Linked DNA regions of Homo sapiens. The protein of the gene in region 1 purifies or fractionates together with the protein of each later gene. This does not show direct contact. Each region holds a gene or a part of one and is shown in the gene's direction. Other genes may lie near its edges.

Region 1 (3,972 bases):
CGGGGGTGGGAAATGGTCGCCGCCAGTGTGTGGTCACGGGGGTGGGAAGTGCTCGCCGCCAGTGCGTGGTCACAGGGGTGGGAAATGGTCGCCGCCAGTGTGTGGTCACGGGGGTGGGAAGTGCTCGCCGCCAGTGTGTTGTCACAAGTTTAAGGTGAAGGCAGTCAGCCTGGATGTGTGATTTTCTTCAGCAGTCATGGAGGAGAAGGGTTGGGCTCGCCCAGTTGGGTTTTCTAAGTGAATACAGTGGAGAGGGAGCGGGAGGCGAAAAAGCAGAGCCCTGTGTATAAGAGTGAAGAGTGAAGTGTGACGACGGCCCAACAGGGAAGCGCGGGCGGCGAGACAGCCCGACGGGAGATCTCCTGAGGCGGGAGAGTCCCTGCAAGGCGACTGAGCTGCAGGGCAGGAGGTGGAGCTCCACGGATGACTTTTGACGGGGGCCTTTCAGCCCTTTGCGGCTTCTCACAGTTGAGGACCCAGGGAATGTCCAGGACTGAAGGGTGTGCGCCCCTGTCTTCTACTATCGAAGCTTCAGGCTGTTTAGCCTCCGTTTCTCCAGAAATGCCAGTCAGATTCAATTTCCAGAAACGCACCTGGCACTAAGAGAATCTAGAAAACCAGGCTGAACGCAGATTAGAAAACGCCGAATAGAGCACTAGTCGAGCTGCAGCTGAGTGAATTACCGAGTAAAAGTGACAGGACTAAAAAGGTGAGAATAACAGGAGGTGAAGAGACACGAGCCCGCCACAAGAAGGACTGAGGAACAGGGCAGCCCACGTTTTGAGAAGAATGGCTGTATTTCTAGAGTCGAAGAAAAGTGAAATCTCAGACTCGGGAAGCCCAACGTGGTTTGAGAGGGCAAAATTACACCAAACCACACCGAGACGTGTCAGATGGTAACTGCTCTGCACCGAAAGAGACGGGAAGACACCGCTAACTCACAGGGTAGGTCCGCGCGGGAGGCCTCTGGCGCGGCGACGGGGCGGGGCCAGGCGGCTCCCAGCATGCCGCGCGCGCCCTCCGCGGGACTCCGGCTCCCGGCATGCCGCGCGCCAGCGCATGCGTGATGCGGCCTCGCGAGGCAGTGCCCCCTGGCGGCGGGTAGTGACCGCCGCGGGGGCGGAGCCGGAGGCGGGGGGTTGCGCTTGGTGACGGGAGGACGCGCGGCCGCCGCGCACTGGGCCGGCGGCGGCGGCGGAGGACGCCGACAGCACGGGCTGCCGCGGCAGCAGCGGCGGAGCAGCAGAGAGGCCGGGGAGCGGCGGCTGGCTCACGCGCGTCGCGCGGGCCGGGATGAGGGACTGTGGCGGCGCGGCCCGCGCGCAGCCGGCCGGTGAGAGCGCGGGCAACGGGCGGTGGGCGGCGCGGGCCAAGAAGATGGCGGAGGGGCCGGCGCTGCGGTCCCCGTGGTCCTGGCCCAGCCTCGGCGGAGGCTCCAGGCCCGGCAGCGCAAGGAATCCAGGCCCGCGGCGACTGCAGCGGCGGGAGGGGCTGTGACTGGGCCGTGGAGGGAGGGGGCGTGGGTGTGCGGGGCCCGGCCGGGCGGGGGGCGCGGAGGCTCGAGGGGCCGAGGCCGCGCGGGGCCCGGGTGCGCGCCGACGGGCCGGGCTGGGAGTGTGAGGGTGGGTGAGTTCGCGTGTGCCCGGCCCGAAGTGGGTGTGACTGTACCCTGTCCAGAGTGAGTTGTGTCCCTGCCCTAGGTGGGTGTGAGTGTGCCCGGCCCCAATGTGGGTGTGGGTGTGCCCCTGTCCAGAGTGAGTGTGAGTGTGCCCCTGTCCACGGTGGGTATGAGTGTGCCCGGCCCGAGGGGAGTGTGGGTGTGTCCGGCCCCAGGGGGGTGTGAGTGTGCTCCTGCCCGAGGGAGGTGTGAGTGTGCCCGGCCCTAGATGGGTGTGAGTGTGCCCCTGCCCGAGGGGGGTGTGAGGGGACCCCGCCCGTGGTGGGTGTGGGTGCACGTGTGCCCAGCCTGAGCTCGGGGCACCGGCCGCATTCCCGGGCGCCGTCGGAGTGGGGACAAGGTGGATGCCCGCCGGTCGGGTCTGGTGCCCGCGTCCTGAAGGGCGGCCCGGGTGCAGGGCTGCGGTGCGCTGCGGTGCAGCCTCGGGCTTTGTCCCCGGGGCGCAGGGAGCGGACATGGGCGTCTCCAGGTGGGGTCATGGCCGCCTGCGGGTGGGCTCTGCGGCCTCGCCTCTGCGGCAGGCGCGGGCTGGGGCTCCGGCGCTCGGAGCCTTCCCCTCCCGGTTGCCCCCCGAGCTGGAATTCCCTCGGTTGCTTCCCGGTTGCTTCCCAGTTGCTGGAGTGCTGTGGGTGGAGGCGGCGTTCCGTGCCCAGGGCGGCGAGAGAGGCGGGCTGTGCATTTTGGGGCCCAGGACGTTTTTTATTTTAAAACGTGCAGCCGGCTCCTTGGCAGCTGTGGGTGTGTTCCGAGCCGCTTCCCACCAGCAGCTGCTGTGGGCGCTGCGCAGCTTCGGAAACGCAGCCGGGCCCCCTCCCCCTCAGTGCTGTACGGGTTTAACCAGACCTCCAGTGACCTCTGCTGAAAAACCTACAGTGGTGAGGCTTCTCGTGCCTCCTGGTACAACAATACGGAGATTTGTCTTTTGAAGCCAGTGAGGGGAATTGGACGCTGCGTCCTAGGTGCCCTCTATAGACAGCAGGTGGTTCCGTCGGCGGCGCCCGATCCACAAGGAGCAAGGTGCGATTCTCGCGCCGGGGGAGGGAAAGGCGATTTGATAGGAGGTGTGGCTGTAAATCGAGGAGACTCATTCCATAAACCGCCCTGGGCGCAGGCTCTGTAGCCATAAATGCTTGGAGTGAATGAATGGGGGTGGCGCCTCGCTCCCTGCACTTGGTGTAGCCAGCTGTCTTCCTGAGAGGCAGGGGAGCAGAGTGGACAGGAGGGCGGGTTCTGGAGCCAGGCTGCCCGCCTCTGAGTCGCGACTCTTCTGTTTACTGGCTTTGTGGTCTTCGGCAAGGTCTCTGTGCCTTTGGCTTCTCATCTGTAAAATGGGAACACTAATAATATTGGCCTCATAGGGTTGTTGTGAGGACTCAGTAAATTAAGACTTGTGAAACACTTTGTTCGTGGCACACTGTGTTTTAGAAAGTTAGGAATGGTTATTACTGCCAAGATCTGGTGCTTCCGGGGTGCATGTGCTGGGTCAGTGGGTCTTCAGTTTCTCCAGCACTGCCAATGTAATGTAAACTGGAAGTTTACATTAAGCTGGAAGTCTGTGGCGCTGGTTTCTCACACAAGAAAGCTGAGGTCATATTTGGATGAACACATGTTTATAAAGGTAAAAGAGAGACAAGCCTCACATACTTAGATGAATTATTATATAAGATTGTTTTAAGACGTTCTTAGAGAAAAATGGCCAGGTGCGGTGGCTCACACCTGTAATGCCAGCACTTTGGGAAGCTGGGGCGAGCAGATCGCTTGAGGTCAGGAGTTCAAGATCAGCCTAACCAACATGGTGAAACCCCGTCTCTACTAAAAATACAAAAATTAGCTGGGTGTGGTGGCTCACGCCTGTAGTCCTAGCTACTGGGGAGGCTGAGACAGAGAATCGCTTGAACCCAGGAGGCGGAGCTTGCAGTGAGCCAAGATTGTGCCACTGCACTCCAGCCTGGGTGACAGAGCGAGACTCTGTCTCAAAAAAAAAAAAAGAATATTTTATTTTATTTTATTTTTATTTTTAATTTTTGAGACAGAGTCTCGCTCTGTCGCCCAGGCTAGAGTGCAGTGGCACTATCTTGGCTCACTGCAAGCTCTGCCTCCTGGGTTCATGCCATTCTCCTGCCTCAGCCTCCCGAGTAGCTGGGACTACAGGCTCCTGTCACCACGCCTGGCTAATTTTTTGTATTTTTAGTAGAGACGGGGTTTTACTGTGTTAGCCAGGATAGTCTCGATCTCCTGACCTCATGATCCGCCCGCCTCGGCCTCCCAAAGTGCTGGGATTACAGGTGTGAGCC
Region 2 (3,034 bases), on another chromosome or scaffold:
TTAGTCCGCTAGGGCTGCCGAAACAAGGTACCACAGGCTGAGTGACTTAAACAACAAAAATTAATTTTCTTTGACTTCTGGAGGATAGAAGTCCAAGATCAAGATGTCGGCAGGTTTGGTTTCTTCTGAGGCCTCTCCTTGGCTTGCAGATGGCCACCTCCCACTACATCCTTAGATGTGTTCCTCTATGTTGTCTGTATCCTAATCTCCTCTTCCTATAAGTACACCAGTAATATTGAATTAGGGCCCACCCATAATACCCTATTTTGCTTTTTATTTCACTATTAGTTTTTTTTTTAAAGCTATTTTTGCCAGTTAATTTAAACATCATGATCTTCTTCTAATGATAAAAATGCAAGTCTTCATGCTAACAAAAGGATTGGAAGAAGGATGAAGCAGATGTTTCTTCTCCCCTACAGCAATCTGGTTAAATGAGGAGTTAAATTGAGAGCTTTCATGAGAATTTCAGTCCAGTTCTGTGCAATGAAGACGAGTGATTCAAAACTTTCACTAACTTGCTCTGTTGTTTGTAATATAATGTTATTGGAAGAGTTATTTTAACAAAGGGGAACTGTTATATTTCTAAAACTTTTAAAATTGTTGCCATGTCTTGGGAAAATAACTTCAGTATCTGTCTTGATAATTTCTTGCCCTGATGATACCATTGAAAGTCATTTCTCTATGTTTCCAAAAGTTGTACAATTACTAGTAAGATTTATCTGCCAGTTAATAATTTTTCTTTTCTTCCACATGCATGAAGGAGTATTTGTAATGACTTTTATATTTTATCATTAACATTATTTTTTTGAACTCTTAAAATGCGTATTTTTTTTTTACATTAATAGACTTCCTTTTTTCAGAGCAATTTTTGGTTTACAGAAAATTGAGCAGAAGATACAGAGTTCCCACATACTTCCTTTCCCCCACCTCAGTTTCTCCTAAGTTATTAACAACTTACACTGGTGTGGTACATTTGTTACAAATGATGAACTAATATTGATAGCTTATTATTAACTAAAATATATAGTTTACATCAGGGTTCACTCACTGTATGAAGTTCTGTGGGTTTTGTCAAGTGCATAACATCTACCATTTTATAATATATGCCATTACAGTAGCATACAAAAGAGTTTCATTTACCTAAAAATCTCTTCTGCGCCACCTCAAATAATTTCTTCTGAGTTAAAACCACTGTGTGGTGAGAGCTCCTTCCTTTTCCAACCTCCTTGTCCTTTATGGAAATGGTAAGAGCTTTTACCCATCTCTCTGGTCCCTTTTCATTATGTGTGTATCTGTCTCCCACATTTGTAAGGTCTCTAGAGAGTCAGTGACCTGGTCTCCTAATCAGCTTCCTAAAGGTGAGTTTCAAGAATTAAATCCGTATTTATATACTCAGATACAGCATCCAGGCAGTGGCCTATTTTTCCTGATTTTATTTTGTCACCTGCTGTATTTTGGCCTTTGACATGTGGAGATCATGGCCCCCCTACTTCGGATGGACTTCAATGGATCTAACTCGAAGAAGACTGAACCCAGGAAAAGAGACTGTGTGAGCATTCTCACACCAGGAAATGGGCTGAGAAACAATTTTGGAGTGAGATGGAAGGAGAATGGTATGGAGTATCTATTCTTAGGGAAATGTGTGCTAGGCCAAAATCTCACTTTTTGGTTAAACACTCTCATTCTCTGATAACATAAAGGCCTCTAAAAATATATGCAGAATATTTGGGGTAACCTTATTATTCATTGCCCAAGTTAGGTCACCTTTCAAAGTAAAAGGGAACATTATGAATAATTATACTAGGGCAACAGGTATAAATCAAGTCACCCTACCATTAGACCAAGTGATTTTCACTGGTTCCTTCATTGTAAGAGTAACTCCTTTTGTTTCCTAAAAATTGTTAAAATGATTCCTTAATGTTGCATTTGAAATAAAGGGAAAAAGACAAAAATTAGCAATAAATTCATGTAATGTCTAGGCAAGGATTTCTTCAGAAGAGAGCAGGTCAGGTGTAGTTAGATCAGTAGAACTGTATGTCTCAGTGGCACCATTACCTTTTTTTTTTTTTTTTTTGAAGCAGAGTCTCACTCTGTCCCCCAGGCTGGAGTGCAGTGGCACAATCTCGGCTCACTGCAACCTCCGCCTCCCAGGTTCAAGCAATTCTCAGGTGGATCACCTGATGTCAGGAGTTCGAGACTAGCCTGGCCAACACGGTGAAACCCTGTCTCTAGTAAAAATACAAAAATTGGCTGGGTATGGTGGCGTGCGCCTGTAATCCCAGCTACCCAGGAGGCTGAGGCAGGAGAATTGCTTGAACCCGGGAGGCAGAGGTTGCAGTGAGCCGAGATCGCACCACTGCACTCCAGCCTGGGTGACAGAACGAGACTCTGAGACTCTATCTCAAAAAAAAAAAAAAAAAAAAAAAAAAACTGGAGCAATTTGGAGACAAGATTAAAAAAATAATAATAACATTGTAGAATGGTGGCCACTCACAAGGTTACAGAATTTCCCAGTAAATGTTTTCAAGGGTGGGGCAGAAGGTATGATAGACAAAAGCTTTAAAAAAGTCACACAGTGCCCATGAATGCCAGCCCTAGGCCTAAGTCCTAATTACTCAAACTCAAACTATTTTCCATTTCCTACCTGTGTGGCTCTCAATCTGTGCTCTGGGCTACCCACATTTTTTAGTACTTTTATTAATTCTTGAGCAGACACATACAATTTTTCTGTGTAAGACATAGGTAATACTCCAGCCATGTGCTTCCCCTACAGTTTAAAGAAGAGAATGCAACCTCCCCCATCTCTGGACTAACCTCCATGCCTTCTCCAACTACATCCCTTTCCCAACTCCCAAGAGATGACCACTGTCCAATTTTTATTTATCCCTTTTTTTTTAAGTTTTACTATATGTTTGTGGCCTCAACATGTCATAGTTTTACATGTGTAAATGGATCTATAGTGTACATATTCTTCTGCAACTTGCTATTTTTCTTCGGCATTATATTCTTGAGATTCATCCTCGTTTTTGAACCT
Region 3 (3,500 bases), on another chromosome or scaffold:
CTCAAAATGTGTCAGTTGAATCATAATCCACCTAGAAGGCAGGTATACAAAGATGATTAAAGGCCACCTTTTCAATATGGAAGATTGTTGAAATATCTGTGATGGTAGCTTCGTATTTCTGTTGTTTGAAATGCTAGTATAATGCAGAGTGGTGTTCGTTTAAAATGCCTATTATTCCTATGAGTTGCCAAATGCATAGCCCTGTAAACTTTACACCTTAAAAGTATATGACTTTCTTTCTAGAACATGCCTCTTCAGTCTTTGTTACCATTTTAGGTTTGAAGTAGAATCTAGTTTTCATATACAAAATAGAGTTTCCTCTTTGAACCCTTGCATTAAAAGTATAGTTATTTCCCCTTTCTGTAAACTCTGTACCATCATCATCCATTTATGCTTGAACTGAACGTGTTCCAACAGCTCTTTTGAGCAGCACATGCAGAAAATATAGCTAAAGAGTCAGGGTCAATTTCTTTCAGACATTCTTGCCACAACAGCATTTTTTTTTCCCTCACAATTAGGAACCAACCGGTGAGCCCTCTCCTAAGAGACCCAGGGGAAGACCCAAAGGCAGCAAAAACAAGAGTCCCTCTAAAGCAGCTCAAAAGGTGAGATTTCTCAAGTCAAGCTCTCCTAACTTCATCAATGACTGACTACAGGAGCCTGCCTGTAACTTTCCCATTCTAACTCCGCAGCCAGGAATTTGTCCCAACTGGGTAACACAAGACTCATTTCTTACATTTAACATTAGTTAGATGCGAGTTAACCTTTTTTGTAAGCAGATGCTCAGCATAAAAAGTTTATGAAGATACTTAACAGTGTTGTTTTTAAACAAACAGCCACCAAATAATTTGAACCTTAAAACGGGTAGAAGTGAGGAAGGAAGGGGTTGCGGGGGGGGCGGGATGAAAATGACACAATTAATATTTGCACCAGTTGTAAATAGTTAAAAACAAATCAAAACTATAGATTTTGCCTGGTGGTAAAGTTTTTGCAATTTCCTCTGAAAAATGATAAAGATTGATTTACTTTGTGCTTATTACATGGCTACTGCAAACCAAATCCCCCTATTAAAGTACTTTGCCAAATAGACGATAATTAGAAGTAAATCTAGTTGTGGGATAGTGGAAAAATTCCATGAATTTTGCAGCTTTAATTGTGATAATAAAGTATACTGTTTGTTTTACAATAAACCTGCAGTATAGTATATCATAATCTCAAAATGCCTTTTCATCAAGTGACATAGAAATGTCTGAATTGGACAATGAGACTTTTTAAAACAAGTATTTGGCTCATTTAATATCTCTTTTTGGGCAGAATGGAACCCAGTTAAGTGTAATATTCAGTGTTTATCTTAATAAGTTTAAACTTGCAGTTTAAGATAACTTCAGGTTGGCTGTGTTTAAGCTAGCAAAGAGGAACTATGTCAGGGTTAATGCATGTATAGAGAAGTACCAGTCACTTTTTTGACTTTATAAATAAATTGGAAAAAAAAGTTTCTGCGTTGTATTTGTAGGTTTGTGTAGTAATTGAGAACAAAGTTTCAAAAATCAGAACTAAATTTGGATATACCTTTTCACCGGTTTTGGGTACTCCATGTACAGTATTTGTTAGAAAGGACTATATGCTCATCGTTTGGGGATTAATGTTTTGTGTGATTTTCTTTGTGACTGTGGGTACTAACTGTAATGTATGTAAACTGCCATAGCAACTAATGGTACATATAAAGTTATTTAGGAAGTTACTCTGAGTTCTTGTCTGTTTTAACAGTTTTGAACAGAGTTGAGGAGCATATTTTTAATATATTTAAATTTAATTGCTTCTTAGAGTTTAGATTTAATTGTTTCTTATTTAATCAATAAACTTTAAAATAGCTCTAAGTAACCTTGTTATTTAAAAATGGCAATATATAATCTGGTATTTTTAATATGAATACTTTACATTTGTTTCATTTTATCTCATTTATAAATTAACTAAAATGGACTGATTTTACCAAGGAGTTTTTCTATGTTGTGTAAGTGTGGAGTTTACCTAATTTACTTTTATTCTAAGGAGATGCACAAATGAATATCTTGTTAGATAGCTGACACGCATTTAAGCTGTGGTATAATTCCTCTGAAAAACACATCATGATAATATCTCCTAGGAAGAAATCTTTAAATTTCACCATAAATAAGTAATTTGAAATTTAATACTAAAAAGGAAAATGAATTGTCTCCCATATTTTACTATATTTCATGTTTTTTGGATGAATAGATAGAAACGCTCCCATCGCCTCCGCTTCATTTTAAAAAGCTTACCACTGACTAACAAAATTTGTATTGAGAAAAGGGAAGCTGAAGCTAGTGCCTAGTTTACCACCTAAAGCAAAATTTTTAAAGTTGATCTATTCCTAAGTAAGGGTTGATTTATTTTTAGTGACTCTAGTGACAGGCATTTGTAAATGACCCCCCTACGCCGCTCATCTTTCTGAAAATTCTTCATGTGTATGCATACATTATTCCAATTTCCAAAACAGAAGTAGGCTTTCTTTTTTCTAAAGATTCCTTCTCCAGAATCTTTCATTCTTTCAGACACAATTATTTCCTACAATGGTGTTATAAAAATCCCTCTTGTAATAAAAATGAATAAATACATTTGCCCATAACATGACTTATTTTTCTTCAGTTTTATAAATTACGCTTCATCTGGAGAAGAGAATACCTTGCAAAATAATGAATGACATTGATGAATCGTTCATGGCATGTGTAAACTTAAGGTATTTTCACTTTCAAATCAGAATTTGTTGAGTATGTTACTATTCTATATAAATATGATTTTCAAACATTTGTTTATTAAGCATATATTGTGTTCTAACAAAACATATATGTTCGTCAGGATTTTGCAATGCAAATCTTTTTAGAAAAAGTTATATTGTTCATAACATGTAAGATAAACATACCCTGTGAGACTGACCAGAATAGATATGAGAAGTCTTCTATGAGTAACAAAGTGAGTGTTTTCCTGTAAACTGAGACCCATCACAATGCAAAATACATTGCAAAGACTGGTAAGTATATGAGAAGAAAGAAGCCTAAAATTAGAGGAGCTGCAATGCACACTGAAATCCTGATGGTTATATACTTAAAATTTCTTGCTGCTTGGAGTTTCTTGACTTACAAAGTTTATATTTGGATTCAGTAATTGGCCTTGGGACATTTGAAAACAAAGCTGTTGATTTGAAAATTAACAGTGTGAAACTGGACAATGCATGCAGAATGTTGCAAGACCAAGTGAATGACTACTAAATTAGCCATCACTTCAATTTCAAACCATATTCAGTAGAAAATTGATTTATATAATATGTAAAACAAAGACATTTATAAGAACACAATTTCCTATGCTTGGAACTTTTGGAAGAGAAGATAATTATTCTTCAATCTACTTAATATTCCATTAAAACTAATTACTATGCATGACCATTGTGTAATGATTCTAGTCATTCCTCAGAACTCCAATCTGAG
Region 4 (4,206 bases), on another chromosome or scaffold:
TGTCCTCACTGATAAGGAAGGAGCTAGGGTCCTTGTGGAGGCCGGGGCGAGGCAGTTGAGTTTTCTAAGGAGCCAGAGAGAAAGTGCAGATGAAAGGACCCATCGTCAGCGTTTGCAGGTCGCGGTAACCCCAGGCCAGATTGACATGGGCTCCGCACCCGGGCCGGTGATTCTGCCTCTTAACCGCTCTTGCAGGAGAGGTGACGTTAATCTCACAAACGTTTTCCTACCCTTCTAGGAGAAATAACGATAAGCCCCAATCTTAAGGAGCAGAGAGTTAGTTCCGGGCGTTTGCCACGGCTCCCTCACTTCAATTTACACTCGCACACGCGGGTACGTGGGTGTTCGGGGTAGGGCACTGATCTGGGGAAGGTCTCCCCCCCGCGACCCAACTCATCTTTGCACATTTGCAGTCCTCCCTCGGTGCACTCCTGGCGGGGATCTGGCCAGTGCAGCGCACTGGGACCGAGGGCAGAGCCCGCGGAGTGAGGCCAGGAGAGACTTCAGGCCTCTAAGGACACAGCTGAGGCTAAGGCTGAGTTGAACGCAGCCCCTCCCGCGGCTCGTCCCCTCTCCAGTGTCTCTCCCGTAAGGTGCCGCTCCCAACAGCAATGGGTCGAGATGTAGAGGAAACACTCTGTACGTTATTTTTCCGCCCACCCTTTAGCGCCTGAGGAGACAGACAGTGTAGACTTTAGGGTACAATTGCTTCCCCTCTGTCGCGGCGGGGTGGGGAGCGTGGGAAGGGGACAGCCGCGCAAGGGGCCAGCCTGCTCCAGGTTTGAGCGAGAGAGGGAGAAGGAGGTCCACGGAGAGACAAGAATCTCCCTCCTCCCACGCCCAAAAGGAATAAGCTGCGGGGCACACCGCCCGCCTCCAGATCCCCCATTCACGTTGAGCCGGGGCGCGCTCGGGGCGGTCGCCTGCAGTATCAGTATCAGCATCAGCATCAGCATCAGCATCTGCATGAGCATCAGCTCAGCTCAGCTCAGCTCAGCATCAGCTCAGCTGTCCTGAGGCAGCCGGCGGCTGTGAAGGAGCTCCAGGCTGCCCCCATCCCCACGCCCTTCTCGGCTCAGGGCGTGCATGAACCTGCGGATGGCCGGCGGGCGAGTGGCGCCTTCGCGATCGCGGCCGCCCCTCTAGGCGGAGGCACCGGGGACCGAACCCGTGACTTCGAGCTCCACTGCGGACGAATCCCGGGACCGCGCGCCTCGCGGAAGAGCGGCCGCCGTGCAGCGCGGAGGGATACGCCTCGGCCGCACCTCCCCTCGCCGCGCCCCCGCCCCCGCCGCCCTCCCCGCCCGGCTCTGCTGCCGCCGCGGCGGCCGCTGCTGCTGCTGCTTCTGCCGCCGCTGCCGCCGCCGCTGCCTGGATATAGTGCGGCAAGAGCGGAGCTTGCAGTCACTTTGCGAGGAGGAGCGCGCGGGCTGCGGGCGGCTGGGGCACCGCGGGAGCGGCGGCGGCGGCTCTAGCAGAGGCGGCCGGGGCAGCGAAAGGTTCTCTCTCCAGGGCTGGACTTAATAACTTTGAAACTGTCCACCGGTGTCACGTCCTGAACATGAGCCTCCTCCTCTCCTTCTACCTGCTGGGGTTGCTTGTCAGTAGCGGGCAAGGTAGGAGTGTGGCGCTTTATTGCATTTACTTTCCCTCCCCCTTCCACCCGGCCAAGAGAGGCAAAGAGGGAGGCGCAGGAAGAATGAAATGAAAGAACTAAAGTTACAGTTATTGCTGTTGTTGTTATTATTATTTTCGTTCTTTCTCCTAGCTGTCCCTAAAATTGTATCTGTTGTGTGGAGACCCTTAAATAAGAGAAGGGAAAATACAGAATTGGAGAGGGGAATCGGTGAGCAGGATATCCAGGGAAACCGCTTCTTCTTCTTCTTTTTTTTTCCTCTGGGATTATGGCTTTCTCTTATTTTTATTATCAGAAATTGGATGAGTGTGTTAACAGTGAAATATCTGAGGTTGCGGAAGGAAAGGGCACGATGGTGTTTTACAGAAGCAGCAAAAACTATCAGTGTTAAACTCATTTGCAAAATATCTGCTGTGTGCAAGACGTTCGATTCTTGGAGACTCTTTTTTTTTTCCACCCCTTTCCCAAAACCCTAATTCCTGACTATGAAGTGAATGATGATGGCTTATTTCTGTTGGAAACTAAGAGAGGGGCCGTGGATATTGTGTGTAAGAAAGCAAATGGATAAAACTAGGGATGTGTTGCAGTCATTCATTTTGACCCCAACCCCTTATTAATACAGAAAGGTGGAATCATTTTATAACATTACATTGTAATTACACCTGTAGAGGATTTTTGGGGTTGTGGGAGAACTGGTGGAAGCTTTTATCTCTTAAAAAAAAAAAATGAATAGCCTGGTAGAATAACCTGAGAGGGAATTTGTGGAAGCTATCACTGTTTGTCTCTAGAGAGATAGATATGAATTTATCTGGCTGTTTAGATAGTAAACACTCACATGAAATATATTTACAATAAATGGAAGCATTTTCAACTGTCCAGACAAGTTTGGACGTTTAATTAGGGACACAAAATGCTAAAACATGCATTGGTGAAAGTCTTTAAAGGAAAAATAAAATAGCACTAATTTTGAGATATGTAATGATTGCAAAGAATGTTATGTTGTTAGTGTAGTGTGAAATTGGTTTTTTAAAATAATATAATAAATTACAAGACAAGTTAAAATATCCCCAAGATATTCAGTTCTAAGCATTTTTAGCCTCTTCTGTATTGCTCGTTTGGTCCAGCAGGGGGTGGTAGAACTCCATTTTAAGCCCAGAAGTTGGTTTCTGCTCTTCCACAGAGTCCTTCTATCATTCTTCAGCAGGGCTTGACATTTTGGATGTGAAGCCTTCCTTTTTCTGCCCTTCTCCTCCCCACAGCTATAGTGTTAGTGGCGGATGAAACACGATTGGATGCAGATTTAATGTTCAGAAATCAGTATGCAAATGTTGGATATTCCTATAGTTTGTAAAGTGTCTTGATAAGATTCTGCTCATTTTCCCTTCCTAACATAGAGTATGAAATATTTCAGTCTTAGCAAAATTGCAGATATGTCCATCTGAAGCTAATACTAGCCCAATTCGTTAATTCAGTGGTTCTTAAGCAAAGATCAGCATGCACATATGTCCTACAGATATGCTTCTTTAATTTTCAGATAGCTGCTGATTGTGTTTAACTGTTCATTTATAGCATAGACAGGTATTTTTGAGCACCAAGAAACAATCCCTGAAAATTGCAGTTAAAATACAACTGCAATTAAATAAGTGTAGGTAGTGTGGGGCAGAATGGGAGCATAATAGGAAACAAGTTTATGCAGACTTAGGATTACATTGTGAGTGGTTTGGAGAAGAAAAATGTCTCAGTTGTGGAATCTGAATTTATCATTGTAGAGGCTAAGTGTGTTGGAATTTGGAGACATAGGAAATTAGAAATGTTTAGATATATAGGTTTAAATAGTACACAGAGACATAAAATTTGGATGTGTACATGTAACATAGATGTGAAATTGTGATTCAGCTAATTTGTAAGTCAGGATACGAGGTGGTTATGAAGAGGCACTCTGAGACAAGCATCTCTGAAGGGGAGCCCATATTCACTGTAATGAAACAGGGTAGAAGGAGACCATCATTGTAAAGATCTCTCTATCTAGTACAATTTCACAATGTGTGGCACTCATAGAGACACAGATATATATCAGAGAGACGTAGCTTTTGTGAAAGGGAACATATAGTACTTCTATGCCATGTGTCCTGATGAAGTCAGAGATGCTTGGATATAGATATCCTCATCCTGGAGTCCAATTCCTCTATGCTAGTGTTTTGTTCTCTAATTAAGGATGCAGCAGCAAGTATCAGACACACCACCGGGAGCTGTTTAAAAAAACAGACCTAGTGTAACTCATGATTTTGTTTATTCTCTTGTAAAGAGGGCCATGGAAAAGCCACCAGTCAGTGATCCCTGGTCTTGCCTTAGAAATACTAAAATCTCAGCTTGCTGATTTATGTGTCCAACAGTATACTTGCAGGGGATTTTATGAAGCATGATTGAAGCTATTGCTTTGGAAAGTGGTGTGCAGTTAGACTGAGGAAAGGCAACAATGATGTATTCCCTTTTTAGGAGTCAAAACGTTTTGAACTGAAGCAGTTGAATAGGAGAAAATGACATTAAGTGAGAAACTGACTAACTTAAGT
Region 5 (3,500 bases), on another chromosome or scaffold:
CAGGGAATCTAATGAACCACCTGGAATCAAACATTTGGAGAGAAGGCCAGTCACTTTTATCGGAACGTCAGATGGTCATGGACCCTCAAGAATGATTGAAGAAATTTGTAAGCCCAGTTAAAACATCCACAGTCTTCTTTCCTCAGTGCAAAAGTTGCCCTTTTTGATATCTCATATTTAGAGTAAAAAAATTTCGTTAATAAGAGATCCTCTTTACTAGTTTTGTAAGGAGTTTTTTGTTTTCTTTTTTAACCTGCTATCTTAAATTATTAAGGGTTAAGTAAGGAGTTTTAAATACCAATAAAATCTTAGTTATAACACCAAGCCTCAGAAGTACTTCCTCTTGGCAATAGGTTTATTGTATTGGTTTAATCTGATACTTAATCTTCTGTATTATAGTAAGCTGAAACCAAAATTGAGATTTGATTGTTTTATCTGTTTGTTGCTATTATTTTTGAACTTCGTTTTTTTTTTTAAGAGACAAGGTCTTGCTATGTTGCCCAACTGGCCTCAGAATCCTGAGCTCAAAGTGATCCTCCCACATCATGCTCCTCCCACATCACGTCACTATAAGCACACACCACTGCCCCTGGTTTATTTTGAACAATTCTTTAATTTTTAGGATATTGTTTCAGGTAACTGTCCTTATTGGCAATTTTCCCATCAGTGACCTGTGTACCTTGTTCCCAGCTCTCTCTATCATGCCCAGGCAACTTTTACTTGCTGAGCTGGGGCTTTAGAACTTACCCCTTAAAAATACGCACCGGAGAAATTGATTTGCATCTCTCTTTTGTAGTTTACCCCTCTACTCCCAAGTAATATTCCTATTTGTGATACATTCTTTAAAAATAAAAGTAAAGAACCTGAAAGTTCTTGGCTCCCTTTTTCATTTTGGTTACCTTAAGATTTTTTCTAAAGTGATTCTCCCTTCACTCACACCACTGAATTTTTTAAATGTATTATAGAATAAATATATTTTTTACCAATAATAAGATTTCCCCTTTCAGAATTTCAAAGTTGTTTCTGGAGAGTTCATTTGTTAGGTTTACATATCTATTTCTGAGGATTAAACTACAATAAGGCAATAATAGAGTACACTTCTCTGTCATGCCCTCACATTGAGTGTACTATGTTAGTGTTAAATCTCAAAAAAATTGATCTGTTTTGCATTTCCTCTTCTTGTTTTTACACCCCAAGTTCCTGTGAAATATTTTTTGAAAAGACTAGGTTTAGTGGAAATATAACATATGCGGTCTGCTTTTTTCTTACAGTTGAAAATGGTGAACATTGTGATTTTACAATCCTAAGAAATATGTTGATAAGGTAAGTGCAAGCAATGATGGAAATAGCATAAGATTTTCTTTCCCTAAGTAAGAGTTGGACAGATTTACTTTTTGCCTTCTATAAATGTAGCTAATTTAAATTTATATCTTCAGTCTAGCCATGAAGTAAACACTACATATAGATGATTCTTTCTCCAAGGTTTTGAAGTCATGAGCAAAAGTTGCAAAGTAATTTGTCTAGGGATACATAGGAAAATTAGTCTCTTTATCATTATACTTTGTGTCGAGATTTAATACTGAAATAACTATGGAAAGTGAAGTAGAAGAGGCTCTTTTTTCTTAATGTGAAAACCTTGTGAAAACTATATAAGAGAAGGCTAGTTTTTGAGTCCAAAGCTAGAATTTGAATGTTAAAAGGTGCACAGCCTGGTAGCTGGTGAGTAGGGCACATTTTATGTACTGGAACATAGTGAATAAAACCAGTATTCCTACCAGGTGAGAAATCCCTAAATTGTGTCTTACACACCTGCTGAAAGAGAAGGAAAGCCTATGGGAGCAGGACATCGAGGCCATCCTGATTAGAGGACCAGGACTGTAAAGAGGATCTCTTACTAATGAATTAGAAAAGCAGCAGCAGAGAGGAAATCATGAAGAAAAAGTGTAATAGGACTAGAGATGTTAGTAGACAAGGAACAGAAAGGGCATCAAAATGATCCTCAGTATTTTCATGTTGAGACACATTCATTCCCCTCCCTACCTGACTCCGCATTTCCCACTTTTCTCTCTTGCTTCTCTACACCTTTACCACATACTCTCTTTAACCTTCAGTTTTAGATGTCTGTCTTTAGTTGATATCTATTAATTTTCATACCTCTACCCACTTTCCCAAAACATAAGAATCTCTTTTGCTGTGTAAAGAAAGGTAGTTACATAAATATGGATAATAGTTGGAAATCATGGAATAACAAGAGGTCATTCTCAAGGTGAGAAGTGAGGGGGAAAATTTAAGACAGTCAAACTGCTACCTCAAGAAATACAATAGAGGTGAGAGTGAATTTTGAAATTAAATAAATGGCATGTAATTGATCTTTATTTTCAAAGGAGCAGGTGTTCTTGGTAGGAACTACATGATAGGTTTAATTCAGCAGTTGAGGTTGCCAGGCCTCACTTAGTGGAGAAGAGCAAAAGCACGAGAAGGTCATCTTCTGGGTTTTGAGAATACAACACTTCAGGCTCTATTATGAACCATTCCCTTCCTCTTCCATTCTTAAGGTGTGACTTCAAAAGAATACATATTAATAATATAATCTGCTATGACAGTATATAAGTAGAGAATGTTTAATAAATACTAATTTACCATTGCATTCCTCTTGTTTTTAAATCTTCTATGGTACTTGCCTAGTGCTTGACACAATGGCATTCTATAACTTTTTCTTGTGTATTTTAAAAGTATACAATCAATAATTTCCTACATACCTAAAACACTGTAGAGGGGAAAGCTAGTTACTGAGCCAGAGGCTACTTTGTTGAGATGGAGTCTCACTTTCTTGCCCAGGCTGGAGTGCAGTGGCACGATCTTGGCTCGCTGCAGCCTCCACCCAGGTTCAAGTAATTCTCCTGCCTCAGCTTCCTGAGTAGCTGGGATTATAGGCATGCACCACTACACCTGACTAATTTTTGTATTTTTAGTAGAGACAGGGTTTCACCGTGTTGGCCAGGCTGGTCTCAAACTCCTGACCTCAAGTAAACCACCTGCCTCAGCCTCCCACAGTGCTGGGATTACGGGCTTGAGCCACCACACCCACCCAGCCCAGAGGCTACTTTGAATATTCGAAGGTTCACAGCCTGGCGGCTAGTGAGGGACCTCCCTAGTATAAGCATTACAGAGCAAATTGACCATGCCTGCAGGAAGATTTAATACAGCAGAGCAGCAAGACTTTTATGCCTAAAAATTCTAAAGTTATTATTAAAAAGATGTGTATTTAATTTAGCTCATGTCTTTAAGACAAAGCCATCTAGTGGATATTTAATAAATACTTGAAGGAAGGAAATAAAATACCAATACCAATATTACAGATGTCTGTAAATCCCAAATAATTGAAATCTTGCAGGTCAAAGGAATAGTGATTGCTTCTAAGAAAGAGGCAAGTTCAAAGAAGTTCTCTTGCTAATTAAGAGAACTAACTTACTCCAGGCAAACCAAGGAAGACGATGGAA
Region 6 (3,500 bases), on another chromosome or scaffold:
AACCCCCATCTCCACTTTGCAGAGCTAACCACTGCTACCAAAGATACTCTGCTCACACAGAAGCACAGGACTCTTACCCACACATACCTTTTTAAAAATACTTCATTAAATACTTTCGTTACTCTACTCTTAGATGAACTTGAATGTCATGTTATATTAAGTATCAAGTTATATTAAAAACTTCCTTTTTCAAAAGTGGCAGAATACAACATTGAGTCTTCCCATCCAAGACAATTGTAAAGCCTCTTCCTGTCTCAGGCTCTGTTTTGGTGACATGCTCAAGTCTTATAGTAGATTTTAAGACACTCATGAATGGGATGTGTATGTACCTTGATTTAGTAGTGCTTAAATACTTGTTGAAGGAATGATAGCTTTAGGCTGAGCTAGCTCTACTTTTGTGATGTTATTTGTACTTACTTGATGTTCAATCCCTACACTCTTGTTTTTTCTGTCAGAAAATATGGTCTACTTTGCCGGGCGTGGTGGCTCACGCTTGTAATTCTAGCACTTTGGGAGGCCAAGGCAGGGAGATCACTTGAGGTCAGGAGTTTGAGACCAGCCTGACCAACATGGAGAAACCCCATCTCTACTAAAAACACAAAATTAGCCGGGCGTGGTGGCACGTGCCTGGAATACCAGCTACTCAGGAGGCTGAGGCAGGAGAATCGCTTGAACCTGGGAGGTGGAGGTTGCGATGAGCCAAGATCTCACCATTGCACTCCAGCCTGAGCAACAAGAGTGAAACTCCGTCTCAAAAACAAACAAACAAACAAACAAAAAAAAAAACAGAAAATATAGTATATTTTATTGTATTTTCTAGGAACAGAAAGCTGAAAAAGTGAGTCTTGTCTCTATTGGTAAAAGTATACCTTAAATACATTCATACACACACTCCTAATTAGCATATTTTTGATTAAATGAGAATGTGCTTTGACTTTAATTCATTATGTTCCTTCAACAGAGAAATTGGACTTGACATTTCATTCTTTCAATTACCCCCTCTTACAGGATATTAATGCACACGCCTGTGTTACTGGTAAACCCATCAGCCAAGGGGGAATCCATGGACGCATCTCTGCTACTGGCCGTGGTGTCTTCCATGGGATTGAAAATTTCATCAATGAAGCTTCTTACATGAGCATTTTAGGAATGACACCAGGGTTTGGAGATAAAACATTTGTTGTTCAGGTAAAAACAAAAACAAAAAAAGTTTCCTTAATAACTGATAGACATTAAGTAAAGTTTTCAATGTTTTTAGAATTGTAATTTTAAAATTAAGTTATCTCAAATCTCTTAAATTTTAGAGTGGTGGTTTTCAGAGTAATAGATATTTTGTTTTTTGAACCTTGGTATGATTCATGTAACTAGAACTGATTTAAGTATCTCTCAAGTACATGTGAAACTGTTACCAACTTCAACCAAACTATCACCAAATTCAACCAAAATATTGGTTAGTATTCAAACTTGAAATTATAGCTAGAAGGGCAAGTCTCTTAACATAATTTTCTAAGTTTTGTAAGTATATAGAAAGGTTTACACACTGACCCAAATTTGTTTCATGTGTTAACATGTATTTTACTTAGGAGAATCTTAATTAAGTTGAAATTACTTGAAAATAGAAGTGGTGGCTGGACACAGTGGCTCATGCCTGTATTCCCAGCACTTTGGGAGGCCAAGACGGGTGGATCACTTGAGGCCAGGAGTTCGAGACCAGCCTGGCCAACATGGTGAAACCCTGTCTCTACTAAAAGTAGAAAAATTAAGCCGGGCGTGGTGGCTCACGCCTGTAATCCCATCACTTTGGGAGGCCAAGGTGGGCAGATCACGAGGTCAAGAGATCAAGACCATCCTGGCCAACATGGTGAAACCCGGTCTCCGCTAAAAATAGGAAAATTAGCAGGGTGTGGTGGTACACGCCTGTAGTCCCAGCTACTCTGGAGGCTGACGCAGGAGAATCACTTGAACCCGGGAGGTGGAGCTTGCAGTGAGCCGAGATTGCGCCACTGCACTCCAGCCTGGGTGACAGAGCCAGACTCTGTCTCAAAAAAAAAGAAAGAAAAATTAGCTGGGCATGATGGCGGCACCTGTAATCCCAACTACTCAGGAGACTAAGGCAGGAGACTCACTTGAACCCGGGAGGCAGAGGCTGCAGTGAGCCAAGATTGTGCCATTGCACTCCAGCCTGTGTGAGAGAATGAGACTCGGTCTCAAAAAAAAAAAAAAATTGTATTTCTCCAAATTAGTGACATCCCTTTTCACAACATAGGACATCTGATCATCAAGGACTGAGGACCTGGTGGTGTACTTAACACCACTGCCATTTATTGATTGATTGAGATGGAGTCTCACCCTATTGCCCAGGCTGGAGTGCAGTCTCGGCTCACTGCAACCTCCACCTCCCAGGTTCAAGTGATTCTCCTACCTCATTCTCCCAAGTAGCTGGGATTACAGGCACGGACCCCATGCCTAATTTTTGTATTTTTAGTAGAGACGGGGTTTCACCATGTTGGCCATGGCTGATCTCGAACTCCTGACCTCAAGTGATCCACCTGCCTCAGCCTCCCAAAGTGCTGGAATTACAAGCGTGAGCCACCATGCCCGCTCATCACATTCTTAAACAGAGAATTTTATTGTTGAAGAGAAACCAGTTAGTACATTGTTTCTTTTGGCAAAAGAATTTTGAGAATTGCTTCTAAATAAACAGAGTATGGATTTACATTGGTCAAAATATGACTCTTGCTGTCTATACCAGGACTTTAATTTTTGTGTTATGGGTAATTGTTCTTCACAGGGATTTGGTAATGTGGGCCTACACTCTATGAGATATTTACATCGTTTTGGTGCTAAATGTATTGCTGTTGGTGAGTCTGATGGGAGTATATGGAATCCAGATGGTATTGACCCAAAGGAACTGGAAGACTTCAAATTGGTATTAATACATTTTTATAGCATAGACACTAAATATAAATATTTAAAACTCTGGTGCAGCTATTAATTGTGATTTTCAATCAATGGCAGCAACATGGGTCCATTCTGGGCTTCCCCAAGGCAAAGCCCTATGAAGGAAGCATCTTGGAGGCCGACTGTGACATACTGATCCCAGCTGCCAGTGAGAAGCAGTTGACCAAATCCAACGCACCCAGAGTCAAAGCCAAGGTGACAACATTATAGAAACCAGAACCAACATTATCAATGTGAATGACGTTAGGGGGGTCATAGAAGAGTCTGATTGAGTTTTCTCTTTCTTTTTAGCAGCTTTATTGGCACATACTGCACATACCATACAGTTCCCCCATTTAAGGTACATAATTTAATGGCTTTTAGCTACCGGCACAGAGTTGTGCAACCATTACCAAAACAAACGCATCTGCCTGACACTCCTGTAAAAAAAAAAAACAAGCAAACAAAAAAAAAACCTAGATAAATAGAAAAGTGAAAGGTAGTTTTATACACTTGGCAGAGAAAAATAACCTCTATTTAACTTTAACTGAAACTGTGCT
Region 7 (3,500 bases), on another chromosome or scaffold:
GAAAAAAATTGAGTCTAAAAGTTTTAATTGTTCATGGCTTTTTATTGTTTAGTGTCTGATTAAAAACAGCAAGTATAGTCTTCAATGTGGAATCATTGTGTTGAATTACATTCGGTGAGGGAATTCACAGTTTTCATGTATAGCATAGGCCTGTATTCCTCAAAATGGTATATTTTTGTGGTTGTGGAAGCCAAATGATCAAAAGAAGCCAAAGAGTTGTGTTTTTTTTGTTTTTTGCTAAGCTTTTTAAAACATTATATTAAAACAAACATGGATATTATATTCATGATGTAGAAAGCAAAATTGGCATTATTTCAAAGATGAGACCAGAGACTTAACAGGAATTTTAGGCTTGCAACAGGCTGTTTAAAGCTGTATTCTCCAGACCTCCCAGGGCTGAGTACACTCTTTTGAGCAATTACAGATGCATCAGTGGAAAAGTTGGAGAAGTGGTGGTTGAGTTTAAAAAAGGTAAAATTAATGTACTCTGTTTCCCTTTTTTTCCTATTACCACAAGGCACAAAATATGACCATTTTCAGTCGAGGTCATGATAATTGTAGCATCTTAATTTTGTTTATTTGTTTGATCCATACACCTGCAGTCAGGATGAATTCCTTGAAAATAAATCTCATCCGATCTCATTCTCTCACTTCTTACCCTCATCAGTTTAAAACAATTTAATGACTTCTCATTGTTTTTAGGATAAAGGTCAAAGTCCTTAACATGGCCTATAAGACTCTTGAAGGTTTGGCCATTGCCTATGAGGTAAGCGTCATGCCCAGCACCAAGTATGCAGGCTGCCTCACCGTCCTTCCTGTTTGCCTACCACTGGACATTTGCACTTAATATGTTCCCTATCCCTCTTCACCTAGTTAAGTCTTACTCACCCTTCACGTCTTAGGCTTTTTCTCATCCACCTTAGGAAAGCCTTTCCAGATTTGTTAAATCACATCAAATCCTCAGTTATATGCTGTCCTAGTACCATGTATATCTCCTGTGTCCCATTCACCAGTTTTATTTTTATATTAATTTGGATGGTTATTTGATATCCAACTCCCCCACTAGATGAGTGCAGGGACCCCATCTATTTCTTGTACCAGTGTGTAAAAAAGTATCTGGTATGAAATAGGCACTTAGAAAATATTTGTTGAGAGAAGGAATAAATTAATTTATTCACAGATTACTGGTCTGTCAGCAAATCTGCTTTCCTAAATGACAATGCACGTAAAGTCCCTTATAATGCTCTAATGGATACTTCAGTGCCAACTTGTATATTGTGTGCCAGAATACAGTAGAAGTAGGGTTGCTTTATCCATTTCTCATAGTTGTAGTGCTCTAGCCAATTCAAAGATACGAATCATGGTTTAAACTTATTTTGTTACAAAATATTAATAATTTCAGGAAATTAATAACACTTTGGTGTTTATGCCATATTATAAATAGTATAAATATTACTTACTAATATCACTTAGTAAGACAACATGATAAGCAAATACTTATTAAAACATTAAAACACACTCCTTCTCCTAAGCATTTATTTCCCTTCATTCAAATTTTCTAATTGTTTCTTCATTTGGGTATTTTTTAAAGAACTCTATATATCTTAGAATGCATGATGGAGTGAAATTGATCAGATGTCTTAATTTTGTCCTCATAAAAATAAAAACAAAAAGCTCATATAAAAAATTAAAATGCATTATTCTGTTGTGAGGATATCCTTTATTTGTTAATTGGGACGATAAAATGGAAAAACAACCCTTGGGCTTAATGAAACCATTATCTTATTTATTATATTTAGTGTTCAATTTGCATTTTTATTAATAGGAATACAATTAAGGTATTTAAAGGTGCATCTTAAATCAGCATTTTCTTGTGTAATTTTTCACCGTTCCCTCTGATTTTGAAAAAAAGAAAACTTTAAAAACTAGATGTAAGTTTATCATTACTAATTTTTGAAGGGCACTTGTTAAGAACATACGTACAGAATTATTGCAAAGCATAGTTTGCTAAATACAGGTGCCTCAAGTGGATTTTCTATGAATTACATGCTGCTAGATAATCACTAGTAGGCAACTTACCAAAATTTTTCTAATAAAGCCTGCCTCCTCCCAATTTAGAATCATTAAAATACAAATCAGAGTAAGTGAAATTGTAAAGATCTTAATAGGCATGCCAGTTTGTTAACTCTTTATAAAACACCATCAGGCTTAAATGCTCTAGCTAGTACTGCAAAACAATGGATTGCAATTGTGCCCTGATTTGACTTGCAAACAACTATTCTACAAGATGGAATTTTTAAATTTTAAAGATGTATTTAATTTATTGTTTGATTTTAATTTAAATCACAATCATTAATTCTAATGGAAGTTTTCATTATCTTACTCTTGCAATTTCAGGAAAAAAGAGTTTGTTGCTATTTGCATAAATGCATTGAACTTTAAATTTTACTAAAGTGCAGTAATAACTGTTTTAGCTCTCTTTGTTCATCTGTTGACTATTTTACCACAACATAAAATTGTTTGAAAAATCAAAATTTATTTAGTAAACCAAAACTTGCACTGACACCAATATATGATAGTTTGTCATGATAAAAATATTGTTACATAACTAATATCAAGTATAGCATACATGACTCTTATGTGTTTACTTGGCATTAATGTTCTTAGAAATTAAGTAGGTTGGATGGTCTTTAGATACAGTGGTAGATAAGAAGAAACCTCATTAAATTAGTTGCGTTTTTAAATGTTGCTCAATATCTTTTTTTTTTTTTGGTGTTTGTTTGAACTTTTTATTTTGTTCCAGATACATCTGCTATTTTTAAAACAGGCTTGCAACATGTTTTCTTAAGTAATAGCTAGAACAAATCGATGGAAGCCTGGCTTAGATCCTAGATTTTCCTTTTTTCAACTTATTTACCAAAGATTGTAAAAGAATCTATTTTCTAGTAACTTGTTAGTTATACTTAGCAATGTAATTTATTAGTAAAAACCTTTAACAATGCTGGCATTAAATAATACAGCTGAATGATTAATGTTAACACTGGCTGAATTTTTGTTTTAATTTTGGTGTGTTTTTTATGTGTATATAGGAACTTATTTTGTATATTTTTTCAGAAAATTGATATTTTAATTTTGTGAAAATCATTTATATTTTGGTTTTCAAAACAGGCCATTGGGATATTAAATACATATAACAGAGAAAGTGTAGAGATTTTGCTCATGATGCTCAAAACAGACATATAGTAGTCCAGTGGCTAGTTTTCCTCCTGGCCTGCTGGAACTTACGTAGAAACCAAGTTTGATGTGGTATAGAGCTAGCATGATATGGCAGGGCTAGGTGCTCTTTCCCCATTTCCTATTATATTGGTGTCAGGATGAGCTTTGTGGCAGTCTCTGTTGGCACTAATGTTACATTAAATCAAAGGAACAAGGCTTCCTTATCCAGAAGCCTGCTCTGTTGCCTTCTAGCTGTCAGACCAGAGACTTTCAGTTTGATGTTG

Evidence for each region.
Region 2: the proteins of ARHGAP39 (region 1) and HMGN4 purify together in Homo sapiens (affinity purification with mass spectrometry; one large-scale study listed by BioGRID and IntAct). This does not show direct contact.
Region 3: the proteins of ARHGAP39 (region 1) and HMGA2 purify together in Homo sapiens (affinity purification with mass spectrometry, with the first as the bait; one large-scale study listed by BioGRID). This does not show direct contact.
Region 4: the proteins of ARHGAP39 (region 1) and NCAM2 purify together in Homo sapiens (affinity purification with mass spectrometry; one large-scale study listed by BioGRID and IntAct). This does not show direct contact.
Region 5: the proteins of ARHGAP39 (region 1) and SEPTIN7 purify together in Homo sapiens (affinity purification with mass spectrometry, with the first as the bait; one large-scale study listed by BioGRID). This does not show direct contact.
Region 6: the proteins of ARHGAP39 (region 1) and GLUD1 purify together in Homo sapiens (affinity purification with mass spectrometry, with the first as the bait; one large-scale study listed by BioGRID). This does not show direct contact.
Region 7: the proteins of ARHGAP39 (region 1) and CNKSR2 purify together in Homo sapiens (affinity purification with mass spectrometry; one large-scale study listed by BioGRID and IntAct). This does not show direct contact.

What each region holds. Positions count from the first base shown.
Region 1 is NC_000008.11:144,683,047-144,687,018, reverse strand, and holds the start of ARHGAP39 (rho GTPase-activating protein 39), read left to right. Parts: upstream 1-1,172; 5' UTR 1,173-1,333; intron 1,334-3,972.
Region 2 is NC_000006.12:26,541,366-26,544,399, forward strand, and holds part of HMGN4 (high mobility group nucleosome-binding domain-containing protein 4), read left to right. Parts: intron 1-3,034.
Region 3 is NC_000012.12:65,827,483-65,830,982, forward strand, and holds part of HMGA2 (high mobility group protein HMGI-C), read left to right. Parts: intron 1-518; coding exon 519-605; intron 606-3,500.
Region 4 is NC_000021.9:20,997,003-21,001,208, forward strand, and holds the start of NCAM2 (neural cell adhesion molecule 2 isoform 2 precursor), read left to right. Parts: upstream 1-1,406; 5' UTR 1,407-1,561; coding exon 1,562-1,616; intron 1,617-4,206. UniProt on the Homo sapiens protein: May play important roles in selective fasciculation and zone-to-zone projection of the primary olfactory axons.
Region 5 is NC_000007.14:35,884,557-35,888,056, forward strand, and holds part of SEPTIN7 (septin-7), read left to right. Parts: intron 1-1,271; coding exon 1,272-1,323; intron 1,324-3,500.
Region 6 is NC_000010.11:87,060,344-87,063,843, reverse strand, and holds part of GLUD1 (glutamate dehydrogenase 1, mitochondrial isoform a precursor), read left to right. Parts: intron 1-1,008; coding exon 1,009-1,188; intron 1,189-2,791; coding exon 2,792-2,929; intron 2,930-3,018; coding exon 3,019-3,156; intron 3,157-3,500. UniProt on the Homo sapiens protein: Mitochondrial glutamate dehydrogenase that catalyzes the conversion of L-glutamate into alpha-ketoglutarate. Plays a key role in glutamine anaplerosis by producing alpha-ketoglutarate, an important intermediate in the tricarboxylic acid cycle.
Region 7 is NC_000023.11:21,380,918-21,384,417, forward strand, and holds part of CNKSR2 (connector enhancer of kinase suppressor of ras 2), read left to right. Parts: intron 1-3,500.